Homo sapiens: one gene and its partners. The protein of the gene in region 1 purifies or fractionates together with the protein of each later gene. This does not show direct contact. Each region holds a gene or a part of one and is shown in the gene's direction. Other genes may lie near its edges.

Region 1 (3,500 bases):
AAACTGAAGAATAATGATGTCCTCCTGCTTGCCTCTTAGCATTCTTGTGAGGTTCAGATGTATCAATATGTCTTTAAAACGTATACTCACTATTAGAATTGTTGTTTTTAGTGAATGAACCTAAGATCTTGGTTTTCAATGCCATGTTCTATCTTGCTGAACAAGCCACATGAGTTACATTGTAGGTCACATGGGGGAAATGATTGTTTGTTTTGATAATCAGTTTGCCTTAGTTATCTTATAAATCAACTATTTATTTTGTTACCTTGGTTTGATAAGAGTTGAGATCTTTCCTATGCAGACTATCACTATAGGTAAGAGTAGGGTGTGTATGTGTGTGTGTGTGTGTGTGTGTTCTCTGAAATGTCTCATTATGTAATAAAGGCAAAGAAGTTGCACAGTATGTGATTGAACAGTGAACCCCAATCGCAGATTTCATGAGATTATTTTTAAAACATTGGTTATGTTGTGTAATTTCTTTAGCAATTGCATTAGAGTTCCCATTTGTTGTTCTAGTTATATTGGATATTATGCACTAATATTGATGGTTTTTGTACAGAGCTCTTTATATACTATTGGAATACAAGTTTTTTTTATGGTTGTATGTTTTTTTGATATTGACTCGGCCAGGCTAAACATGTTTGGTAGAACCAGGTTCTATAATATTGTACTAATATATTTTAGTTTAAAGTTCTATAATATTAAATCTTAGAATTCAGTGTGAGTGACACATTTTGTCAAGTACATCCCTACTTTTGTGGCTTGTGTGGGCCAGGGTAAGTGATAACTGTGGCAGAAAGTGAAGCATGTACAAATATTGACTCAGGTCACTCTGCAGGAGCTGGCAGGATTAGGGGTGTTCTCCCATTGCCAAGCATGTTGCTTAACACGTTGGGCAGCAGAGCTGTCCAGACAATATTGGAACAATTATTATGAAGGAATTTCCTAGAGTTTGTACAGAAGTAATGTAAGATATATTTACAATAAGGAAAGCTCATATTTTGGCCATCTATTCTTACTTTAGGGTATAAAAGAAAAACATTTAAATCAAAGTCCTGAAATTCTTTTATATATCTTCACCCTTTTTTGAATCCTTTTGTTCCTTAGTGTATGGTGTTGAGGGGAAGGGAACATTTTAGATTCAGTAGTCACGTCACTTATGTCTACTTGAAAAGCAGAATCTAATTATGAAAATGTAAGTCTGTGAAATGTTCCTGTCATGTCAAGAATCACTTCTGGTATTCCCCATAATTACTGTTTTGCCATTCTCTAACTCAGGTTATCTTCACTTGCAAGTCTGTTATCAATTGAGATAGATGATAGGTATCAATCAGAAATATAATTATAAATGGGCTCATTGAGAATGGAGACAAGAATGAGTATTTCATATTTCTAAGGATGACACAGGAGGCATAATTATTGTTATGTCCGTTAAGTAAGAAAATCCAATAAAACCCCTTGGAAGACTGAAATAAATCCAAATTCTGAATTCAAAAAATATTCTAAATGATGATTTTAATTTTGGAGATGAGCAATTTTAAAATGTGCCTCATAATTTCTCACTACTGATAAATAATGAAGTGAGCCCAAAATAGCATGTCAGCCAGCAAACATACCTTCCATCCCTGTCACCCAATATATTCAACAGTAACTGAGCAAAGAAAATGATATAACCTAATGCAACATACCTCAGAGGCTAACAGCCAAGGCAAAAATGGATGCAGAGGTTCTTTGATCATAACAGAGAGACCTGTCTCCTGGGCTGTCTTAGAATTTTACTGGCAAGTTGACCAGTTCCTGAGGATTCTCACTAAGATTCCCAAATCTGAAGAGAAGAAAACTGAGTAGGTATCCTCACCATTTTGGGTTGTTCTTGTTTTCTCTTGTGGCTGAGAAATAGTAGAAATGAAGGCTTCAGAGCAGCGTACTAAATTGGGAGAAAGATCGATCCATAGCTCTTTGGAATGACGTACCTTTCACCAACTAAACTTAGAGATTCTGCCAAGAAGAAAAACATCAACTCATTGAACCCATGGAATTAGACGTCTTAGTATTGCTTCCTACAAATAGAGCACCTTACATAAATTTTATATTAAAAAAAGCTGAAAGGTGAGATGATAAACAAGAGAATGAGATGAGAAAGGAGATATAGATCTCAGGAAATGAATCAAGAATGGAAAATCATAATGATTATAGAAAAAAATATTCATTAGAAATAGAAGAAAACAGAATAGGCCCAGGTAAAAATCTTTACACATAAAGATGAAAGGTTTGAAAAAAATCAGAGTAAATGAAAAAGGAAAACAGTTAGACAAAGTAGAAATTCTCAAACATGAAAGAGGCTGCTTGACAGTGAAAGCCACACAGTGAAGAGATGAACTTAAAACAAACAAAAAACTAAATTCAGAAGTAGAGAAAACATTATCAAAGTAACGAGGGAACACTGAATGCATTTAAACAACTATTGGATTGTGTTTATAGGGCAGAAAACAGATATTATAAAGTAGGGGAATGTAAAAATATTAATAAAGCTGGCCAGTGTGAGGTGTTAGAGAGAGGTGAGATGGAAGGATGTGAGAAATGCTAATATCCTTCCCTTTCTGAGCAGGGACAGACTCCCTGCTGCTTAAAATAGAAACACATACTTAAAAAAAAGATTCAAAGCACTGATTTTTAAAAATAGTTTATTTAACCTTAAAGAGGTCTTTTTGGAAATAGTATCTCTTACGTTAAGGAAGTATTTAGTACATTTATAGTTCCTTCAACTGCAGTTTTAAATCTGCTTAATTCAGTTAAGTTTAAATTTAAATTCAGTTAAGTTTAATTTCAGTTTTTAAAAATAAATATAACATCAGTGATATGTTCTTATTTTTATAATTTTTTAAATCTATCCATCCATCTCCTGAAGAATTCATATAAAGATAGGAAGAAATAAGGAAAGATGCTGTGCTGTGTTTGGTGAAGAGGAGGGGCTTTTTCTTTCAGCATCATACCTCTTTACAGTGTATGATTTTTTATAATAGGCATGTATTCTATGAGAAGTGTTCATTACACACCCCCACACAAAGCTACCATGTCAAAATACTAACAGTGATTAATTGTAAGTAGTAGGTATATTAGTTAGGTTGTTTTCTCCTGCAGATAAAAGAACACTCTAGTCAAAATGACAGACAAGTAGGACATTTATCATGTGATAAAGTAGTTGGGTGGTTAGGCAGCACCAGGTAGTCAAAAATGGCAGCAGCATTCAGGTCCTTCATATAGCTCCACTCTGCTGGTCTTAGCCTTGGTTGGTGTGATCCTAAGATTGGATCCTCCAATGGTCACAAACTGACTTGTAGCAGTTCCAAGCATTATGTATGTTTATGCATAACAAATTGCAGAGACAAAGGTTGGATCCTCCAATGGTCACAAGTTGACTCGTAGCAGTTTCAAGCATCATGTTATTTATGCACGACAAACTCCAGAGACAAAGAGGGGAAACTGCTGTCTTGGCGTCT
Region 2 (3,500 bases), on another chromosome or scaffold:
CACTGAGGTTTGCCAGGACAATTATGTATCTTGCTAAAGGTGATCTTCTTAAGATGTACCTGTCTTGTTCAGATACAGACTGAATGTGTGGGAAACTGAAGTGATCATAGTGTTCTAAAATATAGGTTTGTAGTTACCCTGTAGTGTAAGTGTAGCTTTTTATTTACCCTGAAGTATGTAACTTCACAACGTGAGAAAGATTCAGTTACCTACAGGCTTCCTGGCTGGCCTTCCAAGCCATCCGATGATTTCCATGGACTTAAACTAGAAGAAACTTGACTTTGCTCTCATGTGCATTAGCTTATGTCATAGAAGGTGCTTGGTAATATTGTCAAATCATACCTGGGCTGTTCGTCAGTGATCAGAAGTTAATCTGGGTCCCCAGCCTCTGACAGTGGTATTTCAAAACAAACTCGATGCAACTAATCCTAGTTTTTAGTGTAAAAGCACTTTTCTAACTCTAAATTTATTTCTTTGTATAAGGTGATGTCTTGAACTAAACCCAAAGTTTGTTCGTTGATCCTTGGACATTAAGTGGATATGGAGACTTCCGCCCCAGGGTATAAATTTTTAATCAGGATCTTTGTCGTTCTATAAACTGCAGGTATGAAAATGAAAGTCTTCAGAATGGAAGGAAGTCAACTGAATTTCCAAGAAAAATACGTGAACAGGTGATAGAAAATATCCAAGTTTGGGCTGATTCGTTTCGATGATATGAAATCATTTATGTATGCTTTAATGATTTCTTACTTGAAATCAGTTACAAAGAGGGTGGTTACTGTTATAGTAGGAAAATGTAACTAAAGTATAAAAACGAGTTGAACTTAGACGTATTAAAATAATCTAAAATGATATTTCCTCTTTATTGTTCAAAATCAGAGCACTAAGTTGGTCTTACACTTTTAGCCAAAAAGTCTATTAGAGCATGTTGCGAGCTTTTTGCAAACCCATGATTAGGATAACCCCAACACGTAGAGCTAACATTTGGGAATTGCATTATCTGGTGGCTCATTTTGTCGCCCAGTCATTGTACTCATCCGTCTTTATGTGTCTGAAATAATCACATTATGAAAATCATGAGTGCCAAAGATGCTTCTCTATTTTGATAGATAGACGACCCATGAAACAGGAAAAGGGATCCTGTGCTTTGTCTTGTGAGAGAATCCTATAGTTTGAGTGTATCAGTGTGGAACAGGTATTCCAATTGTACAGCTTATGAAAACATAATTGTCGACACGTGCTTCGCAATTTAGATAGTTTGAGTATATCAGTGTGGAAGAGGTATTTTAGTTGTACAGCTTATTAAAACACAGTTGTCGGCATGTGCTTGGAAATTTAGTGGGATTTAGGCTTAGGATGAGCCCTGAGAATTCATATTTTTCCTACATTTTAGAGTGCTCCTAAAGCTAGTTTCAGATGAGCTCCTTGGAATATCTTGGCTTAGGAGAGTTATCTTAGGTGCACCTGAAATTAGCAGTAGGTACTCTTGAATTTCAACATTTCTGCCTTTTTTTTTTTTTTTTTTTCTGAGACGGAGTCTCACTCCGTCACCCAGGCTGGAGTGCAGTGGTGCGATCTTGGCTCACTGCAACCTCCGCCTCCTGGGTTCAAGCAATTCTCCTGCCTCAGCCTCCCGAGTAGCTGGGACTACAGGTGCACACCACCATGCCTGGCTAATTTTTGTATTTTTAGTAGAGACAGGGTTTCACCATATTGACCAGGCTGGTCTTGAACTCCTAACCTCGTGATCCACCCACCTGGGCCTCCCAAAGTGCTGGGATTACAGGCTTGAGCCACCATGCCCAGTCCATTTCTGCCATTTAAGTACTGCCTTCTTCCCTAGAGGAGCAGCCTTAATGTTGAATCTGATGGTCATCAGTTCCCGTGCTGGAAGCCAGTTTCTGAGGCATCCCACACTGTAGCCACCAGGCAACTTGCTAGTCTATGGGAGTAAATAAACCAAAAAGCCAGTTGAACTGTGGGTTAGATATGTGCCACTCAGCAGTCTAGGAACTGTTTGTTCTGTTACTGGTCTGTGATATAGTGAGTACTGAAATGGAGTATGTAGTAAATATGACAGCAATTCGACAGCAATTTTGTGGCTATTGAATGTAATCGTACAACAAAAGTGAGATTATATACTTTACATATTCATAATTTTATTAGTGGTTCATTTATATTGTTTAGTCATAAGATTCTTGTTCCACTTCAGATTGGAAATAAAAAACCATCCCTCACATAGATAGTTTTAGAAGCAAGGTGTTACGTATCAAGAAACCTAAAATTGATTAAGGAAGTTAGATTCTTTGCCTTTGTTAATATTTTTTAGATATTTTCTTAATAATCCAGATGATAAGCTTTTCTTCCTTTGGGGCATCAGACTTTTATAAAAGTTATATATATATGTTATTCTTTAGTTCTTCCACCCTTCCGGAAATAATTCCATATGAAGGAAAGTTAGGGCGCTGTCTCTGGGGAGCCAGGTGGGGGCGCTGCGCCTGCTCCCAGGCTGTGAGGTTGCAGAATCTGTGAATATACCATGTGTGCCTGTACCATGAATTTACCTAGGGTGAATCTAGGCTCTCAGATCCACCCTAAGTATCCACCAGCCAAGAGGGCGCACATGCCAAGTGGAGCCTCAGTTCATCGACAGGTCCTATGGCCCATTTATGAGAAAACTGATGACGCAGTCAGTAGTTCTGAGCTCGTGGGGGGTTACAGATCTTCAGTATAGGTGATGTTTAATATTGACTTTGGTTCTTCCGCAATAGGATGTTGGGAAATATCTTTAAAGGAAGTTATAAAAACACACCGAGGTTTGATTTTAGTAATTTTAAGCCTCGAATTTGTTTCCTATTAATCACTCACTATTTTTTAATGAGTCAGCTAATAAGTACTTTTATCCTGACCACTAGCTCCCAACTGACTTGAGCTCATTTCTCAAACAGTCTTTAAAAGTCATATACGAGTGGTTTGGTAAAGAAAACAATTTTTTATTGTTTTTATTTTTATTTTTTGAGACAGAGTCTCGCTTTATTGCCCAGGCTAGAGTGCAGTGGTGCAATCTCTGCTCACTGCAACCTCTGCCTCCCGGGTTCCAGCAATTCTCCTGCCTCGGCCACCTGAGTAGCTGGGACTACAGGCACCTGCCACCACATCCAGCTAATGTTTGTATTTGCAGTAGAGATGAGGTTACATCATGTTGGCCAGGCTGTTCTCAAACTCCTGACCTCAAGTGATCCGCCCACCTTGGCCTCCCAAAGTGCTGGGATTACAGGCATGAGCCATCATGCCCAGCCAGAAAACAATAAATAATATTTTCACTGTTGTGACTGTCATCATTTAGAAAGACCTGCAAATAACTGTTCTTATTTTCCCAACTTACAGGAGCCAGCACGTCGTGTCTCAAGATCTAGCTTCTCTTCTGACCCTGGTGAGTAGTGGTTGGGTTTTGTTCCAGAATCCTGAAAGATCAGGTCTTTGCGAAGCATATTGGCAAA
Region 3 (3,500 bases), on another chromosome or scaffold:
GTTCAGCTTCCTTACCCAAAAAATCCCCTATAGTCTTTTCACTCATTGGTATATTATCTGAAATGTTATTTCATTTTAAAATTTATATATTCAACTCAGTTCCTAATTCTGATCTCAACCACAAAGTTGAGATTAGTTTTAGTTTATGTTATGAAAGTGATTGAATATTTCTTTGTACCCATTCCTTCAGTTGGTCAAGAAATTAATTACAGGTATAGTTTTACAATCAAATATACTTTTCTATATGATAATCTTTATCCCATTAATTTTTATTTTTATTGGTTACAATTTTAAAAGCTTACTTTCTAATCAAACATTCTTTAATTTTAATTCCGCAATACACAACTTGCTAAAATTTATTGGAGGGAACCTTCTACCTTCCCTGAGTGTCACTGTCAACATAGCTTTATATTCCTTTCTGCAACTTCATTTGGGGAGCCGTTGAGTTGATTTCATCCTATGGGGGAAAAAACAATTTCCTTTACAGTGTTATTTTTCTAGAAAAAGCTTAAAATTTTATCATGTTTCTAACATTTTAATGGTGATAGAAAATTAAAACTTCCAAAAGAGTAGGCCTATTGAAGAAAGGTACTCTGCCAGACCTACTGCTATCTGGCTTGGTACATCATTGCATTGCTCTACCAAAGTTCCTGCTATTAGAATTTGCCCGTTTCCTACTGACTGGCTCATTGCTGAAGCCTCTGTTTTTCTTAAACATTGCATTGCAGTCTCCAATTGTGTTATATCTATCCAAGTTTTGACTAAAGAAGGGATACTGTTTTGTGACGTAGAAAGCAAATGGGACTTGCTTCTGGCTACCTAGAAGCTTATTTCAGCAGGAGGTAAATGTACTGAACAATTATAGCTGCATATTTGTTTTCTTGAAGCAAGCAGTAGAACAATGAAAATATAACAGTTATGTTTTGACTTTTTATCTTTCATTTTGCTTTATTTGGTGATTGTGCTATAAAATGCCACTGTAAAGATCAAATTGATTTAGGATAATTAAAATTGATTAAGTTTGTCATATATTTTTAAAATGTGTAAAAAGCTTGAATTATAGCCCACCATCAAATTATAAATCATTAATAAACTGTGAAGGCATTTGCATTCTTTTTTTTTTTTTTTTTTTTTTTTGAGACAGCATCTCACGCTGTCGCCCAGGCTAGAGTGCAGTGGCATGATCACTGCAGCCTCACTGCAACCTCTATCTCCTGGGTTCAAGCAATTGTCTGCTTCAGCCTTCCGAGTAGCTGGGATTACAGGTGCCCGCCACCATGCCTGGCTAATTTTTTTTTTTTTGTATTTTTAGTAGAGACGGGGTTTTACCATCTTGGCCAGGCTGGTCTTGAATTCCTGACCTCGTGATCCACCCACCTCAGCCTCTCAAAGTGCTGGGATTACAGGCATGAGCCTCCACGCCCAGCCTGGCATTTGCATTCTACTTACAATGTTGAGTACTTGTCTTCTGCAAGTTACTAGAAATAACGGAATAAGACAGTCAGATTTTACCATTACTGTCTCCAGTGGAGACAATAATTTTAGGAGCTTTATTAAAGCTTAGAAATACTAATATAATCTATCTGTACTTCCGAAAAGTAATGCCTGACATGTATACTTACTTTTGTTGTTTGTAGTGCTAATCCTCCATCTGGAATTGAAGATGAAACTGCTGAAAATGGTGTACCAAAACCGGTAACATAAGGCTTTGAAATCCAGTTACTGATACAAATCTTTATCAATAGCTTCACAGTTTACATAGAAAGCAAGCTGGCATTTTACATTACCTTCAGTATCAGGTGTTATCTGGCCCTTTCTTACATCTCCTACTTCATCTGGTGCCATCAAAAACATATATAGGAATTAAAATGAGGAAAAGAAATAGTAGAAAGACTGCAGAGGAAAATAGTATGTGCAAAGGCTTGATGTTTATTGCTTTCAAGGAATTGAATGGTTATAAATCTACTGAATATAGTGAGCCTGGTTTTCAGAGCAAGTTTTGAGCCCACAACCTTTCACTGTTACGATTTTTTAACGTTGCTTTTTAATGTATGTGACAGTCCCTGACTGCATGCCTGCATGCCATTGATACTTTGTGAGGTGAACATATCATTGGTCCTATGAATATTTGTGCATTTTAATCCTATAAAAGGAAGGAAGTTATTGTTCCGGAAGTTTGAAGTTGTATACAAAAAAGTATTTTGCCTATGTGATCTACTTATTTACTATGATGTGATTAAGCACAAAATAGCCTTTAAGAGCCAAAGTAAAATCTTCACAAATATAGAATTTGCATGTAGGGCCTCTTCTAGGTATACAAGAATACCAAGAATAACTGAGCTTCTACTTAACTATTTGGTACTTCTTATGCTTTGGGGTTTTTTTTTTTAATTCTTTAATTGATTTGGTACATTGTATTTGTGACACTGTGAATCTTAAAATTGTTTTCCTCTTAGATTCTTTTTTGCCAAGACTTCTCAAATACTTATTTTTTATAATTTTATCTTGTAGGTATCTTAGTAAGTTGCTTTAGATCTTTTTGCAAGAGGGGCAGATATGATAGTTAAAAAAAAAATGAGGTGTTGTTTACCACAAGGAGATGATGCCAAAAAGATTTCATTTCTTTATTCATAGTCTTATCCTTTTTATCCTGTAGAACATCAAAATTATGAGTTGAAATAGGTGGCAGCATTATAAGCTTGTAACTTTTAAATTGTATCTCAAAAAAATACAGAGTGGGGCCGGGCATGGTGGCTCACGCCTGTAATTCCAGCACTTTGGGAGGCCAAGGTGGGTGGATCACCTGAGGTCAGGAGTTCGAGGCCAGCCTGGCCAACATGGTGAAACCCTGTCTCTGCTAAAAATACAAAAATTAGTTGGGCATGGTGGCGGGCACCTGTAATCCTAGCTACTCTAGAGGCTGAGGCCGGAGAATTGCTTGAACCTGGGAGGTGGAGGTTGCAGTGAGCTGAGATCATGCCACTGCACTCAAGCCGGGGCGACAAAGTGAGAGTCTGTCTCAAGACAGAAGAAAGAAAAAAAAAAACAGGGTGGTTACTTTTTTTAGTTATTAGTATTAGATGTTGAAATGGATTACTGAATGTATTTTATAATTTGTTTATGTTCATGTAGAAAGTGACTGAGACCGAAGATGATAGTGATAGTGACAGCGATGATGATGAAGATGATGTTCATGTCACTATAGGAGACATTAAAACGGGAGCACCACAGTATGGGTAAGTTATTTTTTAGTAAGTAACAATTGTGTAAATGCTATATAGTAAGGAGAGTGTGCCTATATCAAACTCTCAGTGGTTGAGTCCATTGTTTTTACATTTTTCTATTTTAACATAAAAGAACTTGTTAAAGTTTCATCATGAATATACTTCTTTGCTAAAATACAGTTAATTGATTAGGCGAAGGTACATAGAAGCAGCAGTTTTTGATGCTGAATTTAAAGTGTTTTTATAAAAGAATTGAGTGCTAGGCCAGGCATAGAG
Region 4 (2,551 bases), on another chromosome or scaffold:
AACCATTTCATACGCAGTAAGGCTTAAAAAATGTATAACAATCATATTAATGATTACTGAAGTTTTGTGCCCCCAGTTATATTTTGACGTCCCATAAAAATTGGCTTTCCTCAATAGAATTAGCACTTGTTATATCTTATCAGAGCTTGTATGAGAAAATATGGTTGTTTCCTTTAAAGTATAATATGAAATTACGATGTCTTTAAATTTATTTGATAATGTAAAACTGTACTTCCCCCATCTGAGTATTCATTTGGTCAACAAATATTTGACAGTGTAGCAGGCAGTTTCATAGGAAGCATCACTAAGAGAAGGTGACATTTAAGAGCTGAAAGAAGAAAGGGATCAAAGCTGTGCAGTTACTTAATGAAGAGCATACTAGATCAAAGAGAATATTAATAGATGCCAAGTCCATAAGGCAGCAGTGTGTCTGCTTGTGTTCAGGGTCAACAAGGAGGCCACTGTGGCTGGAGCACAGTGAGTGAGAACAGAGAGTAGCAGGAGATATGTTAAGAGGCGGGAGAGGATAGATCGAGTAGATCATTGTAATTGCCTTGGCTGTCATGGATACCAGAAGCTATTGGAGGGCTTCACACAGAATAATGACATGACATGATCTGATCAGTTTGGCTGCTGCATACAGAAGAGATTAAAAATGAATAATGGACAGAAACGAGAAACTTTGGAGGCTACTGCAGTAAGTCAGGAAAAGATAGTAATGGCTTAGGTGAGATGGTAGAGTTAGGATTGTGAGAAGTTGTCAGATTTGGGATATATATTTAAATTTGAGCATTCATGATTTGCTAATGATTGCATTTGGGGTGTCTGAAAAAGAATCAGATATAATTTGTGTTCTGTTGTAGGCTGTTTGCTGAGGGACTTGATATTTTGTTTTCTGTTGTATTTCTCAGCACCTGGCAGTATGTTTGATACATGGGTAGTCAACAAGTAAATATTTATTAATATAAGTGAATGAATGAAAAAAAGTCAAGCACTTCTGGTTTTTTTTTGGTGTTTTTTTTTTGTTTGTTTGTTTGTTTTTTTTTTGAGACAGGGCCTTGGTCTGCCTGGTTTTTTGGGTGTTTTTTAAGGCAGGATCTCACCGGTCTCCCTGGAGTACTGTTAGCTTGATCATGGCTCACTGCAGCCTCAACCTCACCCGGGCTCAAGTGATCCTCTAGCCTCAGCCTCCTGAGTAACTGGGACTGTAGGCATGTTCCACCATGCCCAGCTAATTGTTTTATAATTTTGTAGAAACAGGGTCTCGCTGTGTTGCCCAGGCTGGTCTCGAACTCCTGAGCTCAAGTGATCCTCCCACCTTAGCCTCCCAAAGTGCTGCTTTTTTTGTTGTTTAACCATTTACCCTTTTTCGGTTTGTTAAATGTTCCTCATTGTTTGAAAAAAAGAATTGAAATCAAATGAACAAGTCTACATCTTATTCATTCATTCATTTAGTAATTAGTTTGTATCATTATAAATGCTTTCTCATTTTTTCACTTGCTTTTCTTTTATCTTAATGTTTTTCTTAGATACTAGTAGTAGTCAACCAAAGCCTTTCAGACGAGTAAGACTTCAGACAACATTGAGACAAGGTGTCCGTGGTCGTCAGTTTAACAGACAGAGAGGTGAATTTCTGACATAACTGGATTACATGATAGAATGTGGAATAGTAATAAATGGAACAAGTTTTCTAATCCTTAAGCCTCCAATTTATTTTTTTAATGTTCCAAAGTTTTATTAAATAATTACATGTTGAGCAGGTGATATTTACCAATCTGTAAACTTCATGTAGACAGATTTGTATACCTTAGATATATAATAAATATGTGCTTATATTTTATATTTATTGATTTCTTCCTTAAATCCAAATTAAGATTTGGAAAATATGAAGTGTTATAGTGTTATATTCATTTGTTGTATCTCTACCTATTGCCATTATATTGTTAATTTTTTTATACAACACGATAAAGCTTTGTGATTATGTTTTAGCTAGTAAAAGTGTAAAATTTTAATATTTCCATGTTTTCCAATATAACTTTTAGATTGTACTTGTGTCACAAAAAGAGGGATTAATCTGCTTGTAATAATTTCCATTGAAGTTGTAGAATACCCAACAGTTTTATATCCACAATGCCTAGATATTTTTTATAATGAACTAGGGTAAGTGAATACACTAGTTTTGAATTCTTAAAAGATATATTCAATTTGATTCTTTTTTCTTTTACAGGTGTGAGCCATGCAATGGGAGGGAGAGGAGGAATAAACAGAGGAAATATTAATTAAATGGTCTGTAAACAATAACAACTGTGAATAAGATTATCAAATCTGTTTTAGTGTAATGATTGTCAAGTTTAAAAACATTTTTATATATAAACTGGTATACTCATGTCAATATTCTTTATTAATAAAATGTTTTTCAGTGTCAAAATTTATTATTCATTTCTTCATTAGTTGACTCCTCCTTTGCTCATCAGTCTAAGGACAGTTGTACCAGACTTTGGATAAGGTCTGCCCAGAACGAGTAGTAATTGCTCTTGCTGTTCTACTAGGC
Region 5 (3,057 bases), on another chromosome or scaffold:
TTCACTAGGTCTGGAGTGGGGCAGAACATGCATCTCTAACAAGGTTATGGGTTATGTCTGTGCTGCTGGTTCCAGGGATCACACTTTGAGAACCACTGCCCTAGCCCAGCTCTAGACCTTTGGGGCTTCTGGGACCCCTGATCCTGGGATTCTGTCTCAAGGTTTGACAGAAATGAATTTTAGACAAATTAAACATCATTTTATGCAGTGAGTGGTGAACCTGTAGAACTTGTTTTTCCAAAAGATTCTATCTTCTGGAAATAGAAACACTGTTGGGCAGAGCCTGTTCTGCTTGGTTTGACTGAAAATGAAACAAACTTGTTCTCAGTCTCTGCCTGGGGTCTGAGAATTTTCAGCAATAGCATTTGCTCAACACCCAGTTGTGGGGTCAACCAAGGTGGAGAAAATGCCAGCCCCTAGCCTGGTCAGGAAGGCAGACAAGTAGGTGGGTATCTACAGATAGCTGCTACCAGGCATTTCATAGTATTGCTTCTGAAACTCAGCAGGGATAGAAGTGAAAGGGAGGAGCTGGGAGCAGCAAAAGAGTGGAAAGCGAGAGGCGTGTGCTGCAGGGCTGCCTTTTCTCTCCTGCCAGAGGGCACATATCCCATGGAACCAATGCCAAGCAGAGGGGGGTTCACAGAGGCCCACAGAAGCATGTATAAACCGGAGCAAGGAACCCAACAACTATGGAAAGAGAAATCAGAGGAAAAACAGGAAACTTGGGAGGCCAGGAAGAGAAGGATCTCATGGGTAGGGGGGCAGCTGGTCAGTTGACAGAGGAAGGAATCCAGCATATTAATTTCAGATACATTGTAGTTCATGGCATTTTATAGCCTGCCTAGAGAGCCAACCACATCACGGCATCGTTTCGGTATCATTTCCTTGGAAAAATGTCTGGCAGCCTGGGCAACATGGCGAAATATCACTTCTCTACAAAAAAAAAACCCCCCAAAATTAGCTGAGTGTGGTGGCGTGCACCTGTGGTCCCAGCTACACGAGAGGCTGAGGTGGGCAGATTGCTTGAGCCTGGGAGGTTGAGGCTGTAGTGAGCCGTGTTGGTGCCGCTGCACTCCAGCCCGGGCGACAGAACGAGACTGCGTCTCAGAAAAAATAAAAATAAAAAAGCCTGGAATGAGCAGTTTGAGTTCTCAGGACTGCTAGCAGAAATGACTGGATTACGTGGGGTCTTCATTTTTGTAAGTGCTTAGTTAGCATAACTGTTAGGCCAGTGTAGCCCTGCTGGCATTATGGGAGTAAATCACCTCTATAATAAATTGTACCCTTTGTCTTATTTAGTTTTTCAGAAAAGGCTTGATGAATTCAAGAGGTGAGGGGTCCTAGAGGAAAAGGAGACCTGCGGCCTCACAGTCTGATGCTAGGGTGAACACCTGTTCCCCTCCCTGAAATATTCCAGGGGCCCAGGTCAGAGCAGAGTTTTGCATGATCAGACCCGGGCAGACGAGGGGTTTTCATCTACCTTGGTGCTGCCGGTTTGGGAAAATTCTTAAGGGACTGACTCCACATCTCCAAAGAGCCCCTCGGCATTCTTGGGACCCCTGGTCCATTTATTGTAAAAATTGCTGGCTCTTCTGTGGACTCCCTTAAATTTCCTCAAGAAAAATGGGATGGCAGCTAAAGAGGGTCCCTGCTCTTTTTAAAAATCTCCTTCCTATGATCTAGGGCGAAAAGCGAATGAGAAGGAGCGGCAGGCAGCCCTGCAGGTGGCCGAGGGCTTCATCTCGCGCATGCAGTACGCCCCGAACACTCAGGTGAGGAGATGCGCACAACCACAGCCCTCTTCCTAGGGCTCTTCCTGTGGCCCCTGACCCCTCAAATTGGCCAGGAAGGGCAGGAGAGCCTTGGGCACTGTCAGGAACAACCAGGCCTCCCTCTTAGACCCATCCAGTGGGAAAGCCCATCTCAATCCTTCAAAATGTCAAAATACTTATTATTTTCAAAGAGGATGTTGGGCAGCACTCTCCTGGGTGCCCAGAGAACTGGGTACTCCTCCTCTGGGCCGTTGTCCCTGGCTGGTGCCACCCCTCCTGCCGCAGCACAGTGTCCACAAGTCATCCCGTGGGGAGCTGACAGGGCTCAGCTACCGTTGGTGGCATTTATTAAACTGTGCACCCACGCCCTTGAAGCAGTCTGTTGCCTCTGTCTGTGTCCCTGAAATCTTGGTTCTCATCTCATGGCTCATCCAGGGGAGCTTTCCCAGCCTGGACTGCACATGGATTCAGGCCAGGCGCCCACACCCTCCTCCCTGGCTCTGGCCCCCTCCTGTCCTCCTGGGCAGAGGCAGAGGTGGCAACTTTGTGAACCAGACTTCTCCCCCGCTGTCCCTGCAGGTGGAGATTCTGCCTCAGGGCCATGAGAGTCCCATCTTCAAGCAATTTTTCAAGGACTGGAAATGAGGGTGGGCGTCTTCCTGCCCCATGCTCCCCTGCCCCCCACCACCTGCCTGCTTGCTTCTCTGGCTGCCTGGTCAGTGCAGAGGTGCCCCCTGCAGATGTTCAATAAAGGAGACAAGTGCTTTCCCAGCTCTTTTCCTGCACCACCTGCCCTGGGCTGATTCTCACTGTCACCCACCTATTCACCTGGGTTCATCCCCATGCTGGGGGTGGAGTAGCACACAGATGACAATTGGACAGCCTTGGAGGGGCCAGAGCTGCTTTGCATGACAGAGGAGTCCCAGCCAGGCTTGCAGGGACTGCCATGAACCCAATAGGGAGGTGGCACAGTGCCAGGCCTCAGGATCAGTTGCATCCGGGTGTTCAGTTCAGTCTCACATTCCCAACAGGGAGAAGGTTGTGGCAATGGGCTTGGGATGCAGTTCCATTTAAGGCAGTATTTCTTCGGATGCCCTAATAAAGCACTGCCAGGCAGCTTCAAGTGACATATGCCCACTGAGCAAGAGAGGACAGCCTTTCACAATTGTACCAAGCCTGGCTTATTACTTCGTAGGCACATTGCCCAGCATGTTTGGCTGGTGAGCCCAGGGCCACTGCAGGGCTGTGCGAAAAGCACCAGGCTAGCATGGACAGTCTTCAGTCT
Region 6 (3,500 bases), on another chromosome or scaffold:
CCCCAAAGAATAGAGAATTGCTAGGGTATATAATTGGGGGAAGGCAGCGAGGGATGAGGATAGTAAGGGTGGCAGTGTCTGTTCTATGGAGAGCACCCTTTATAGCTCTGTCAAAACATGAGCATCTTATTCTGTAGGGGATGGAAGGTGTCCCTGATGGACTTAAGGCAGGAAAGCATTTCAGAAAGACCTCCCTGACCATGGGGAGGTTGATTGGAGGAACAAGAAGGCTTAGTCGGCGTGCAAGTCAGAGAAGGGGCGAGAGATGAGGGTATGACTTTGCAAAAGGTTTGAGAAGTAGAGCTTGAGATTGGCTGAGTGTTGAGGAGGTGAAAGGGGCGCTGGGGTGACTTGAAGGTGGTTCCTGGCTTACCTGACTGTGTGCTAATTGTTTTACGAAAAGAGACTGGGAACCCACGAGAAGGAAGCATTGGTGGTGGCAGTGGCTAAGGAGAGAGAAGTGATGAGTCTGATTTGGGACATGTGTAGTTTGAGGCACCCATGAGTCATCCAGGTGTAGGTATTAGGTGGACAGTTGGAAATACTGGCTTGGGAAAAGAGTTGGGCTGGACATAGAGATATGAGAATCCCCTTTGTTTTGATAGATTAGAGTCCTCCTAGCTCACTTATTTGCCTTGTATTAATGTCTGTTAATACCTCCATCTCTTCTCCCCTGAATAACATAACGTTTGAAATATTTTATAGCTTTATACTTTTTTATAGCTTCAACTGTGTCCTCAAACAGCTAGATCCCCCATACACAGTTGCTAAAAGCCAGAAGAAACTTTCTCAAACCTTGCCAAAAATTCCTACATTGATCTGTTAGGTACACCAAAGTTATAGTCTTCTCTTCCTTCCTTCATTCATTTAACACATATTTATTGAGCATTAGGTGCTGTTGTTCAGTGTACTGGGAATGGGGCTGTGGACAGACCAGACAAGGTTCCCAGACTCAAGGAGCCTGTTAGGAGACAGACAATAAATGAACAAACAGGTAGGCATGTGATGCCAGAAATTGATAACATACTACCAACGAGGTAAAACAGAAATGTGGTAGAGTGGACGGTGGGGCTGCTTTAGCTGGGGTGTGCTGAGAAGCTTCTTTAAAAAGGAAACCTTTGAGCAGAGATTTGAAGGAATTAAGGGGGTTAGCTAGGTAGGTATTTTGGAGGAGAATATTCCTGCAGATGCAGAGGAAACAGTGACTGAAAGCCCAAGTCAGCAGTGTATTTAGCATATTTGAAGAAGAGTGGAAGGCCATAGGACCAAAGTACATAATCCTGGGGAAGAGTGGTAACAGAAGGAGTTGGGTCGGGGACAGTCATGTAGGCCTCACAGCACAGGGTAAGGACTTTGGATCTCAGCCTGTGAGTGACGGGGGCTATTGAAGGTTTGAGCCCCTTTAGAGGATCCTTCCCAGTGTGGTGTGGAGAACAGACTGGGAAGTGGGAGGGGACAAAGTAAGAACAGGGAGACAGGAAGCTACTATATCACCCAGATGTGACACATGAGAGTGGCTTGCACCAGGATGATAGTGGTAGAAGAGACAAAAAGTGGGTCTGACTCATGTATATATGAATAAATGTAGTGTAGAAATGAATTGCTAATGTAGGGTATAAGAGGAGAAAAGAAGTCAAGGACAATGCCACGGTTTTAGACCTGAGCAACTTCTAGCATGAAGATACTATTTACTGAAATGAGGAAGATGGGGAAGGTCCAAGTCTTTGTTAGATGCTAGAATACGGCCTTCCTCCCCCTAACCCCTCCCACTCCATGCACCCTACTGTCTGTGCCCATCTCTATCTTTCTGACACGGCTGTTGCCCTGCTGAAAAACCTGTGTACCAGTTGGTCCCTTTGGACACCAGAGGTCTGCTGTGAGGATGACATTAGATTATACAAATAAAGCCCATAGTGGGGACTCATACACAGACAGAGCTCAGGAGATGATGTCGGGCAAATAAATGAATGGAGTAAAAGGAATTTAGATGAGGGAAACTTTCTGTAGGTAATGTGTATTGAGGAAGACCATTTGGTAGGTAGGACTTGAGTTGGTGGTAATAATGATAGCTAATGTTTATTGAGTGGTTACTTTGTGACAGGTGAGGGAGATGCAGTTATTTTTCCATTTCACAGATGAGGCCCAGAGAGAGTAATTAATTTGCCCAAAGTCATCGAGCTAAAGAGTGAAGGAGCTGGCTGGAGCTCAGGGCTGCAGTGGAAGGTTGGGTAGGTGTTTCTTTTTGGGAAAAATGGCACAGAGCAGGACATGTGCAAGGATAGTCAGGGACCAAGTAAATCAAGTGACTGGTACACAAGGTTTATTCTGGGAGGTAGAAAGTTAAAAGCAGTGACTCACCTGGATGGATCCCTGTGAATGGGAGCCAGTGAGGTTTTTTGAGCAGGGGCAACAGCCGTGTCAGAAAGAGAGATGGGGTCGGGCGCAGTGGCCCTCGCCTGTATTCCTAGCACTTTGGGAGGCCAAGGCGAGCGGATCACTTGAGGTCAGGAGTTCGAGACCAGCGTGGCAAACATGGTGAAACCCCAAAAATTAGCTGGGCATGGTGGTGCGTGCCTGTTATCCCAGTTACTCGGGAGGCTGAGGCAGGAGAATCGCTTGAACCTGGGAGGTGGAAGTTGCAGTGAGCTGAGATCTCATCATTGCACTCCAGCCTGGGGGACAAAAGTGAAACTCCGTCTCAAAAAAAAAAAAAAAGGAAGCTAGAGGTGGCCACAGAGAGTAGGGTGCATAGAGTTGGGGGCAGGGCTAGGAGGAGGAAGCCCATGTTCTAGCATGTAAGAAGGACTTAGACTTAAAGGAATGAAGGTCTGGCCTTAGGTGGTAGTGATGGGGATGAAAGCAATAGTTAGAGGATGTTGCAAAAATATAAATACCCCATGCTATTTAAATCTGTTTAGGAGCTGGGTGCAGTGGCTCACGCCTGTAAGGCCAGCACTTTGGGAGGCTGAGGCAGGCAGATCACCTGAGGTCAGGAGTTCAAGACCAGCCTAGCCAACATGGTGAAACACCATCTCTACTAAAAATACAAAAATTACCCTGGCGTGATGGCACGTGCCTGTAATCCCAGCTACCCAGGAGACTGAGTCAGCAGGAGAATTGCTTGAAACCGGGAGGTGGAGGTTGCAGTGAGCTGAGATCACGCTATTGCACTCCAGCCTGGGCAACAAAGCGAGATTCCATCTCAAAAATAAATAAATAAATAATCTGTTTCGGTAATGAGAGTTTGGAGAGTGAGGAATATCATGTTATCTGAGTCTGTAGTATTTCGTTTCCTGAGTTTTAGTTAGAGAGTAGCAATAGTTTGGATAATGAGGAATACCTGCCTGCTTGCTATGGAAAAATGTATCTACATGTGTTTGGTTTCTGAGTCTGAGAGTGGAGGGACACCTGTAAGTAAACAATCTGAGGTAACACAGAGATGCAAAGGAACAGGGTGAGTTAGAACCTGGGAGACAGAAGCCAGGGGCAGAGGCGGAGGA
Region 7 (3,500 bases), on another chromosome or scaffold:
GACCTTAGAAGGAGGCACATGTGAGACGAAGTCTTTAATTCAGGCATGCATTCATTCATTGAGTGCCAAGTGACAGGTATTTTATGGTGATGCCATACTCAGAGCTTGCAGTCTAGCTAGCAATACCAATTTCATTTTACTGAGAGCTTATGATGTGCCCAGCACTGCACTGAATGCTGAATTGAGTCACACACAACCCCCTAAGCAACGGGATGAAGCAGGAGCACGTTTCTCTCCGTGTAACCGGTAAAGATACTGATGCTAAGAGAAGCTAAGGAGCTGGCCCAAGAAACCCAGCCAGCACGTGGCAAGGCCCACGCAGAATCCAGCCCAAGCCCCTGGACCCAGCCACCACTCCGCTGCCTGCACTCAGGTGGGCCTGGCTTATGACAAATATCACCTTTCCCTGTTCCCGCATTAGGACCTCACTGAGACCTTGAAGTCTGAGCTCAGTGGCAAGTTTGAGAGGCTCATTGTGGCCCTTATGTACCCGCCATACAGATACGAAGCCAAGGAGCTGCATGACGCCATGAAGGTAACCAGGCAGACAGGGCAGGGGAGTGGCAGGGGTGCTCACATGACTGGGTAGGGGCAATGCGGGGACCGGGAACCTACAGCCCAGAGCTCCCCTTGAGCCACTGTTTGGAATGGCCATATGGGCCATAACTGGGCCCAGTGAGCAGGCAGCCTGCTGCTCAGACTGCACCCAACACCTGGAGTCACTGGTGCCTGATTGACACGTTGAGTGGCCGTGATGAAGCCAAAATCAGTACTTCTCAGAACCTCACGAGCTCAGGTGTACAGTGGTATTGGAAACCCACCTCTACAGTCCCAGGCACAGCCCCTTGGGTTTCCCTTTACCTCTCACTACTCTTTGCTTTTGCAGATTAATAAGGATGGGGACCCAGTAACTATAGTCATTTTGTTTGGAAAGACACTTGCTGCATGGGCACTGCCAGGCATTTTACACCCACGCTCCCTAATCTATCTTTGGCGCAGGGGAGGCTTCTTATTCCTGTTTATGGATCGGGATGCTTAGGCTCCAGGACATGGAGCAGCCTGTCTGAGACCACCCAGCTAAGGAGGGAGAGCTGAGACAGGGCTTCCCCGTCACAGCACTTGCCCTCAATGTTCATCACTGAAGCATGTGATTTTCTCATCACATCCTCCCACTTCAAGTGGGGCAGGGCAGTGAGGTCCTTCCTGAGGCTCAGGCATCTTGAGAAAAGAAGGTGTGGACAGAGCAGAAGGTCATGGCAGAGCACTCCAGCAGGCAGAGGTTTCTGTCCACAGGGCTTAGGAACCAAGGAGGGTGTCATCATTGAGATCCTGGCCTCTCGGACCAAGAACCAGCTGCGGGAGATAATGAAGGCGTATGAGGAAGGTAAGGGGTGGCACAGATGGAGGGGCTCAGGAGTGGCCACAAGCTTTGGCAGCCTGGCAGGGAACAAGGATCAAGAATTAACCTGGGCCACACTAGAAAGGACCCTTTGGGGACTTTTTTACCCACAGGTGCTGAGCACCTACCGTATGCCAAGATCTGTGCCTGATGGTGACACTGAACATGATTCAGACTTGATCTGTAAGCTCACCAGCTCCTCTTACAGGGGAGAGAGGCCTGTGACCAACTAAAATCTCTGCCCTTGAGGACTGTGGTAGTAGGGGGTGTGGACCCCAGGCTAGCAGAGGCCAGTCAGTCCTCCACATCATGTACCTAGTGGGGAGTTTTCCTGGAGGCTTTGGCTTTGCCAAGCCTTGAGATGAAATGGAGCTTGGTTGGCAGCCCCTAGCCTGGCTCTCTGACCTGGTCCATCTTGTGCTTTGAGCTTGGTTGGGTACGCATGTCGCTTCTAGTTGTGAAGCACCACCCAGGCGACAGCCACTTGGACACCCGGGCATTGCATCCATGCCCTGTGCCAAGGACTTTCTTTCCTAGAAGGCTTTAATAAGGAGAAGTATGGGGAACAGGGCTGGAAGGAGGAAAGCAGGCCCCGGGTAGGCTGTGGGCCTCTGCTTGTGCCTCATGGTCCTGTTTCCCTGCAGACTATGGGTCCAGCCTGGAGGAGGACATCCAAGCAGACACAAGTGGCTACCTGGAGAGGATCCTGGTGTGCCTCCTGCAGGTGTCACAGCCTAGGCTCTTGGGAGTGCCTTGGTTTGGGAGTCCCAACAGCTCCACCCCAGGGAGCAGCCCTTGAATAGCGCCACAAGAGTCAGGGTAGGGGCATGGGATAGCCCAGCAGCCAGGGCTCATTGGGTGTGTCTCAGCATGGTTAGAGGGTCCCAACTGCAGAGCCCCCACACCTGTCCTTACTCAGCCATGTGAGAGCATCCTGGAAGCGGGAGGAGAGCAGGTCCTTCGTGCAGGCCTCATGCCAGGCACTTTGCTTACCTTAGCTCACTGAATCCGCCAAGCCTTATGAGGCAGTCCTTACCACCCCCATTGTACAAATGAGGAAACCAAGGGCTGAAGAGAATAACTGGCTTGTCGAAGTTTCCACAGCCAAAGAGCAGCAGAGCCATGCCTGCCCTCCAAGCCCAGGATCCCCCCTGTGCCCTTAATGCTCTGGTCAGCTGGCCTGCCTTACAGAGCCACCTCCTCTGTTCCTAGGGCAGCAGGGATGATGTGAGCAGCTTTGTGGACCCAGGACTGGCCCTCCAAGACGCACAGGTGAGGCTGCGCCCAGCCGGCCATGTGGCCCCACCCCCTGCCATCTGGACTCCGGCTCCTCTGCCCACGGGGGCTTTCTCTGACACTGGGCTGGGACCCACCCAGCTCAGCTCCCTATAGGCCTTTGTCCTGTGGTGTCTGGGGAGGAGAGTGAGGGTGTTGGGAGACTCGGGAGGAAGGAGTGTGACTTGGGGGTGGGGGAGCACTAAAGCTCTGTCCTGGCAGGAACAGCCCATGAACCCGGGGGCGCTAGGCCCCAGTGCTGGACACAGGTGTCCGGGTCTCTGTAGGTCTGCCTGCTGGCAGAGGGAAGTCTGGGGACCAGGCAGTTCCTAGAGCAGCTTGTGGCCCAGGATAGAGAAAATATTCTAAGCCAGAGCTGCTAGAGAAAGGGGAGCTCCCTGTCAGAGACGACCAAGCAGGGGAGCATGCTGGCCTGGCAGAGTGGACAGGGCCAGGCCATGGCCACAGCTCTGGGACTCTGGGGCTCAGTCCCTCACCTCCCTGGTCTCCCTCACTGGCTTATTGTGGGTGTCCCAATGCTAGGATCTGTATGCGGCAGGCGAGAAGATTCGTGGGACTGATGAGATGAAATTCATCACCATCCTGTGCACGCGCAGTGCCACTCACCTGCTGAGAGGTACCAGGGAGGGAGGGGCTGGGGCCGGGGCCACAGGGGGTGTCCTGGCCATGAGCCTCTCCCTCGTGCTTCTGCCTTGTCAAGTCTAGAGTTAGGGAGAGAGCCAGGGAGCCCAGGACTGTTTCCCCAGCCACCAGTGGGAGGTCAGGGCGGCAAATTGATGTGCGATCTCTGATCCGAGACACTGAG

Evidence for each region.
Region 2: the proteins of HDAC9 (region 1) and MKI67 purify together in Homo sapiens (affinity purification with mass spectrometry; one large-scale study listed by BioGRID and IntAct). This does not show direct contact.
Region 3: the proteins of HDAC9 (region 1) and FIP1L1 purify together in Homo sapiens (affinity purification with mass spectrometry; one large-scale study listed by BioGRID and IntAct). This does not show direct contact.
Region 4: the proteins of HDAC9 (region 1) and TPR purify together in Homo sapiens (affinity purification with mass spectrometry; one large-scale study listed by BioGRID and IntAct). This does not show direct contact.
Region 5: the proteins of HDAC9 (region 1) and CAPG purify together in Homo sapiens (affinity purification with mass spectrometry; one large-scale study listed by BioGRID and IntAct). This does not show direct contact.
Region 6: the proteins of HDAC9 (region 1) and NUP93 purify together in Homo sapiens (affinity purification with mass spectrometry; one large-scale study listed by BioGRID and IntAct). This does not show direct contact.
Region 7: the proteins of HDAC9 (region 1) and ANXA8 purify together in Homo sapiens (affinity purification with mass spectrometry; one large-scale study listed by BioGRID and IntAct). This does not show direct contact.

Annotation. Positions count from the first base shown.
Region 1 is NC_000007.14:18,498,749-18,502,248, forward strand, and holds part of HDAC9 (histone deacetylase 9), read left to right. Parts: intron 1-3,500. UniProt on the Homo sapiens protein: Responsible for the deacetylation of lysine residues on the N-terminal part of the core histones (H2A, H2B, H3 and H4).
Region 2 is NC_000010.11:128,116,424-128,119,923, reverse strand, and holds part of MKI67 (proliferation marker protein Ki-67), read left to right. Parts: intron 1-604; coding exon 605-671; intron 672-3,387; coding exon 3,388-3,433; intron 3,434-3,500. UniProt on the Homo sapiens protein: Protein that associates with the surface of mitotic chromosomes and acts both as a chromosome repellent during early mitosis and chromosome attractant during late mitosis.
Region 3 is NC_000004.12:53,380,641-53,384,140, forward strand, and holds part of FIP1L1 (pre-mRNA 3'-end-processing factor FIP1), read left to right. Parts: intron 1-1,637; coding exon 1,638-1,695; intron 1,696-3,132; coding exon 3,133-3,236; intron 3,237-3,500.
Region 4 is NC_000001.11:186,313,703-186,316,253, reverse strand, and holds part of TPR (nucleoprotein TPR), read left to right. Parts: intron 1-1,529; coding exon 1,530-1,625; intron 1,626-1,686; exon of another isoform or gene 1,687-2,227; coding exon 2,228-2,283; 3' UTR 2,284-2,475; coding exon of another isoform or gene 2,476-2,551. Other genes in the region: PRG4 (proteoglycan 4 isoform A preproprotein), read right to left, coding at 2,476-2,551.
Region 5 is NC_000002.12:85,394,253-85,397,309, reverse strand, and holds the end of CAPG (macrophage-capping protein), read left to right. Parts: intron 1-1,683; coding exon 1,684-1,772; intron 1,773-2,351; coding exon 2,352-2,417; 3' UTR 2,418-2,557; downstream 2,558-3,057. UniProt on the Homo sapiens protein: Calcium-sensitive protein which reversibly blocks the barbed ends of actin filaments but does not sever preformed actin filaments. May play an important role in macrophage function.
Region 6 is NC_000016.10:56,733,129-56,736,628, forward strand, and holds part of NUP93 (nuclear pore complex protein Nup93), read left to right. Parts: intron 1-3,500. UniProt on the Homo sapiens protein: Plays a role in the nuclear pore complex (NPC) assembly and/or maintenance. May anchor nucleoporins, but not NUP153 and TPR, to the NPC. During renal development, regulates podocyte migration and proliferation through SMAD4 signaling.
Region 7 is NC_000010.11:47,474,116-47,477,615, reverse strand, and holds part of ANXA8 (annexin A8), read left to right. Parts: exon of another isoform or gene 1-373; intron 374-421; coding exon 422-535; exon of another isoform or gene 536-536; intron 537-1,293; coding exon 1,294-1,384; intron 1,385-1,512; coding exon of another isoform or gene 1,513-1,550; exon of another isoform or gene 1,551-2,025; intron 2,026-2,043; coding exon 2,044-2,123; intron 2,124-2,611; coding exon 2,612-2,671; intron 2,672-3,217; coding exon 3,218-3,311; intron 3,312-3,500. UniProt on the Homo sapiens protein: This protein is an anticoagulant protein that acts as an indirect inhibitor of the thromboplastin-specific complex, which is involved in the blood coagulation cascade.